2 separate regions of the Homo sapiens genome follow, and region 2 is linked to region 1. Evidence: fine-mapped expression QTL. A gene starts in region 1. The other region holds a variant in brackets. All regions are shown on one strand. Distances are from middle to middle.

What was found. PIP is the estimated chance that this variant, and not a neighbour inherited with it, causes the effect.
Region 2: its variant is fine-mapped to the expression of LINC00921 in hypothalamus (GTEx, PIP 0.98).

What each region holds. Positions count from the first base shown.
Region 1 is chr16:3,262,394-3,265,299 of GRCh38, forward strand. LINC00921 (long intergenic non-protein coding RNA 921) reads left to right here and starts at 1,375. Exons shown (of 2, transcript NR_033904.1): 1 at 1,375-2,906. RefSeq lists enhancers at 1,436-1,595, 2,036-2,135, 2,286-2,355 and a silencer at 1,616-1,795.
Region 2 is chr16:3,305,376-3,308,281 of GRCh38, forward strand. ZNF75A (zinc finger protein 75A) reads left to right here and starts at 122. Exons shown (of 7, transcript NM_001302109.2): 1 at 122-268. TIGD7 (tigger transposable element derived 7) reads right to left here and starts at 55. Exons shown (of 2, transcript NM_033208.4): 1 at 1-55. RefSeq lists an enhancer at 1-145. The variant T/C (reference allele first, on the strand shown) is at 1,459.

The DNA.
Region 1 (2,906 bases):
AGGCTGAGGTGAATCACCTGAACCTGGGAGGCGGAGGTTGCAGTGACCTGTGATCGCACCACTGTACTCTGGCCTGGGTGAAAGAGTGAGACTGTTTCAAAAAAAGAAAGAAAAGAAAAGAGAACACTCTGGCTTCCATAAGAGACAAGAGATGAGAAAGGTGGAAACAGAGAGGAGAAAGCAATCTATTGTCACAATGCAGGAAAGCGACTGCAGGGCCCTGAACCACTGTGGAGGCAGAAGGGTCAGATTCTGGGTGATTCTGAAAGCAGGGCTGACATGATAAGGGTAGACTGGATACTGGCGGGTGTGAAGATGCATCTAAGATACCTGTTTCTGGCCAGATTTTACAAAGGGCCCTTGTTGCTACCTTAAGGAGTTAGTGTTGAATCCTGCAGCAGCTAAGAGCTTCTGCAGGATCTCCCTCTCAACTTGGACCAACCCACCTGCCGATCCCAGCCCAGATCAATGAGATCTGCTGCCCAGTCCCCTACGCAGATAACACTAATTGTAACTGATCTTTCTGAGGGCACCTCCTGAGCAGCTTGGAAACGGAGGGAGAGGAGAGGAAGCCAGCTTCCCAAAGTGGGGTGTGGCAGGTGGCCTTAACCCTGCTGAAGGGCTGCAGTCATGGGGCTCTGAATAGATCCCCACACCACTCACCAATGAGCTTCATTTGGAAGGCGGTAACGTTAAACAAGAGGGTTTGTAAAAAATAAAGGCCTACACACATAATTTTTTCTGATTATTAAATCTAGGTGGAGAGTACGTGAGTATTCATGTTACTCTCTCAACTTTCTTGTGCTTAAAAATCTTAAAATAAAAACTTTAATACGCTCTGTCCTACCAATATTTATAGGAACCTGACTAGCAGCCAGGCTTTGGACACGCAATCCCCGGCCACCAAAGGGCTGACAGGCTAGTGAAAGGGGCAGAAAAATAACAAAACTGTGTCTGGAAGGCAGCTACTCCCTTTTTTTGTTTGTTTGTTTTTTGAGACGCAGTCTCACTCTGTCGCCCATGCTGGAGTGCAGTGGCGCGATCTTAGCTCACTACATGTGCCTCCGGGGTTCAAGCGATTCTCCTGCCTCAGCCTCCTGAGTAGCTGGGACTACAGGCGCGCGCCACCACGCCCGGCTAATTTTTGTATTTTTTAGTAGAGACAGGGTTTCACCATATTGGTCAGGCTGGTCTCGAACTCCTGACCTCGCGATCCGACCGCCTCGGCCTCCCAAAGTGGTGGGATTACAGGCGTGAGCCACCGCGCCCGGCCCTTTGTTTTCTTACCAACTAAGCAGCAGCACTGACACTGTTTCCTTTGAGGTTCCGTTTGCTGAATCCTGCCCTCTAAGGTGCTCCGCCCTTCCACTCCCCGCCCCGTGCTGCTGTCATTCCCACGCCTCACCCTGTTTTGCAACTTCTTGTTTATGAGCCTGGAAGCCACGAAGTGGTGGGAAATACGAGATTCAAATATCTGGTGGCCGTGTGACGTGAGTAAATTACTCGATTTTTCTCAGTTTCCATTTCCTATCAAATGGGTTGTTCTGGGAATTCGGGGAAGTAACAGTGCCGGGAACCGCGGGAGGAACCGCCAGCTGCGTCCTCGGACGTCCCCAAAGCCCAGGGCGGCGACTGGCACGACTGTCAGGGGCGCGTCTGTTAAGAGGACAGGGGGTCCCGCCCCGGCACAGCCGTCTCCTCCAGGACCCCTCCCGCCGACGCCCCACGGACCCCACGCCCGAGCGGAGACCGGCGCGAGTCCGGGGTCTCCGGTCCGGCAGCCCCTCCCTGGCCCGGCGCCCCAAAGGGAAGCGGCCTGGGGGAGGAGACGTGTGGAAAGAGCGGCAGAAGATAAAGAGGAAGTAGCGGTAGAGAATAAAAAGGAACTGTCCGCAGTGTGCCCGGACGCGGGGAGGCGCTGGGGTCAAGCGAGACCCGACCTGCACGCAATTCCCGCCGGGGTCCCGGCCTGCCTGCGGGAGGGAAAGGACCCAGGGCGGCTTCTGCCAAAAGTGCGGCTTCTGCCGAAAGTGCGTCTTCTGCCGAGGGGCCCACATAAGGCGCGACAGACACTCCAGCCCGACCCCGACGCCCCGCCCTCACGCATGCACATGCGCGGAACACTCCCAGAAACACATCTCCCAGAGCGCCCCGGGAGCACGCGAGCCAATTGGAGGGCGGATTAGCGGGGGCCCACGTCTCCCAGAGGTCTCCGAGTCGCGGCTCTGTTGGTCTGATTGGCAGCCGCAACAGCCTATAGCTGCTTTTCGCCGGAGGGGCCACGCGCCGTTTGCCGGGACTGAGCCGCTGTTGTCGCTGGTATCCCGGGAGCAGCGCCGGCAAGTGGAGTCGTCGTATTCCGGGCGGCCCGCGGCCCACGGGGATGGGACGTCCCGGGGCTGTGCTGACCCCAAAACCCTTCCACACTTTATTAGCCTGTCGCCCTTCTTTCATGTTTACAGCAAATATTTTCCGAGTGCCTAATGTGTCCCACTTACTGTGCCACGTGCGAGGGTGCACGTGTCAGGCAAGATCGCTGTTCCAAGGAGGCTGAGAACAAGTAAATGGTAATTACCAGTTATGACCAAAGCTGTGAAAGGAACAGATACATCAGCCTAACAGCAGCACTGCCGTTTTCTCCCTTATAATCAGCAGAGGCGGGCTAGAGCAAGGATTCTCAAACTCTGCCCCCTCAGAACCCTAGAGTACGGTTGCTGAAACTTCTGTTTTTTCCTTTTGAACAAATCTAGTAACATGCTGTGAGCCAGAGAGGTAATGGTTTGGCTCAAAGAAGGCACATGCATCTGGTTTCTTTCTTCTTTTTTGAGACGGAGTCTCGCTCTGTCGTCCAGGCTGGAGTGCAGTGGCGCCATCTCCGCTCACTGCAAGCTCCGCCTCGCGAGTTC
Region 2 (2,906 bases), 43 kb after region 1:
TTCCCTACCGCCGGGGAAGACAGCAGTTTCTCTGGCGAGGAAGTAGGCCGGGCTCAGGCGCCTTAGCCAGAGGGCGGGCCTGCGCCACCCTCGGAAAGCGTCACTTCCACTTCCGGCCGGCGCTCTGGCTCTGTACCTGGACAGGGCTGCGGTAGGCCAGCGGTGGGCTGGCGGTTGCGCTCCTCAGATCGGCGGCCTTTCGGGCGGTGGCTTGCGTTTGAGCCTCAGAAAGCGAGGAGCGGCCTCCACGGAAGCCAAGCTGGCCGAGGTAACCGAGAAGCGGCTTCCCCTATGGCTTCGACCCTGGAGCCGCTGGAGCGGCGGCGGCCGCAGGGAGGCAGCCATTTTCCGTAGGCGGTGGCCGCGGCGCTTCCGGGCCGCGCGGCTGGAGCCTGAGGCGGGGCCACCGTCGGGCACGAGAAACCATTCTCTCCCCGCTTTTCGCAGCTGTATCCCAGAGGCGCGGCTGAAGCTCGCTGGGACACTGCCCGCTTGCCCAGTGCCCACGGGCACGCCTGTCGCAGACACAGGCTGTGGCGAATCCGAGTGCTGGCGGGCAGCAGTGCCTGCAGCTGCGCCCGCAGACTCTTTCCCGCCTCCGCCGGCATTTCCGTGTCCGGCCGATGTCATGCGGTCGGTTGAGCCTCAGGGCTAGCAGCTTCTACTGATGCAAAAACATAGGAAGTGTCTCTTTGCTTCTGGAACCGGGGTGGGCAGCAAGGAGCTGGCCACTTCTTTGAATACCGGTGGCATCCTGGGCAGAATTTCGGTGCCGTTTCTGCTGGCTCACTTCAGGAAAAGTGAGGCTCACGGCTCTCCTCAGCCCCCCTTAGAAGTCTAAATGACCTTTGGAGAAATACAAAGTCAGCAGAAAGTTTCACTTTCATCGTCACCAACTCCTGTTGGAGTTGATATTTCATAAACATCAGCGACAGAAAGAAAATACGACTTGATATTTTGTAAATAAAATATCCTTTTTTACAAGTTGATATTTTGTAAACAGAGGTCAGCTGTAATTTTCTCCAGATCAAGTAAGCACAGTTAAAAATTCATATAGGCCTGGCGCGGTGTTTGACGCCTGTAATCCCAGCACTTTGGGAGGCCAAGATGGGTGGATCACGAGGTCAGGAGATCGAGACCACCCTGGCCAAGATGGTGAAACCCTGTCTCTACTAAAAACACAAAAATTAGCCGGGCATGGTGGCACGCGCCTGTAATCCCAGCTAGTCGGGAGGCTGAGGCAGGAGAATGGCTTCAACCGGGGAGGTGGAAGTTGCAGTGAGCTGAGATCACGCCACTGCACTCCAGCCTGGGTGACAGGGCGAGACTCCATCTCAAAAAAAAAAACAAAATTCGTATAAATCATCTGCATGGCACCCTTTATGTGTGTTGCAAAGAATGATGAGCATCTTGTTGCTTACTTGGGAGACATTGTCTGAAAATAGGCTACTTTTTTAC[T/C]TTCTGTAGTACCCCCTCCCCCCACTGTATCTGGGTTTCACTTACCCGCTGTCAACTGCCATCCAAAAAATATTAAATGGAAAACTCCAGAAATAAACAGTTCATAAGTTTTAAATAACTTTTTTTTTTTTTTTTGGAGATGGAATCTCGTTTTGCTGCCCTGGCTGGAGTGCCGTGGCACAGTCTGAGCTCACTGCAGCCTTCACCTCCCGGGTTCAAACAATTTTCCTGCCTCAGCCTCCTGGGTAGCTGGGACTACAGGCGCGCACTACCACACCTGGCTAATTTTTGTGTTTACAATAAAGAAGGTTTCACCATGTTGGCCAGGCTGGTCTTGAAGTCCTGGTCTCAGGTGATCCACCCACGTCAGGCCTCCCAAAGTGCTGGGATTACAGGCATGAGCCACGGCGCACCGCCAGTTTTAAATAACTCTTACTACAGTGTTTTATTGTTAATCTCTTATTGTACCTAATTTATAAATTAAGGTATCATAGCTATGTATACATAGAGAAAATAGTATAATGCAGTTAGATGCTGTTGGGGGTTTTAGGTATTCACAGAATGTACTGGAACTTACCCCCCTTGGAGAAGGGATACTACTGTATTTTGATCTCACCGTCTCAGCTCTTTTGCCAGTATTCCTACAATGGAAAATCTAAAATGTTGTTTTTTAAGGTGCCTTTATTTTTAGTTTTTAAATTAGAGACAAAGTCTTGCTCTAACTCCCAGGCTGGAGTGCAGTGATGAGGTCATGGCTCACTGCAACCTTGAATTCCTGGGCTCAGGCGACTCTCCCACCTCAGCCTCCTGAGCTAGAACTACTGGTGTGCTCTACCATCCTGGCTATTTTTTTTTTTTTTCTTCAAATTTTGTGTTTTGTAGAGACGGGGTCTCGCTATGTTGCTCAGGCTGGTCTGAAACTCCTGGCTCAAGTGATCCTCCCACCTCGGTCTCCAAAAGTGCTGGGAATGCAGGCATGAGCCACTGCACCTGGCCTAAAATATTTTTAAAGTGAAGGCTTCCATCTTCACAAGAGGATGAAGGGTCATAAAAGTTGTACTCCCCTTACTAGAGACAGACTGGGATGATCTGTTGAAATTTAAGAGAATCTCAGAATGTTTTCCTAATCTTATTTTCTCCTATTCTTTTCTTATGGGGAAGATGGGATAGGAGGCACACCAGTTAAATCCTTGGAAAATCCCAAAATACCTTTCAGCCAGTGGGTGCCAATTTTCTTACCCACCAATCTTTCCTAAATTGTTTTCTTTTTTATAAAAAAGACAGTTGTCCACTGACATTTGTGTGTTTTGTGCTGTGCTTCAGCTGAATAATAGAAAAGGAGAAAAACAAAGGGCCTGCTAGTTGATTTTGAAGGGAAGACAGGACACCTTTTCTGTTCTTCTTTCTCTCATAAGTCGCAAGTGATGAGGTTCATGTGAGTTTCTTAT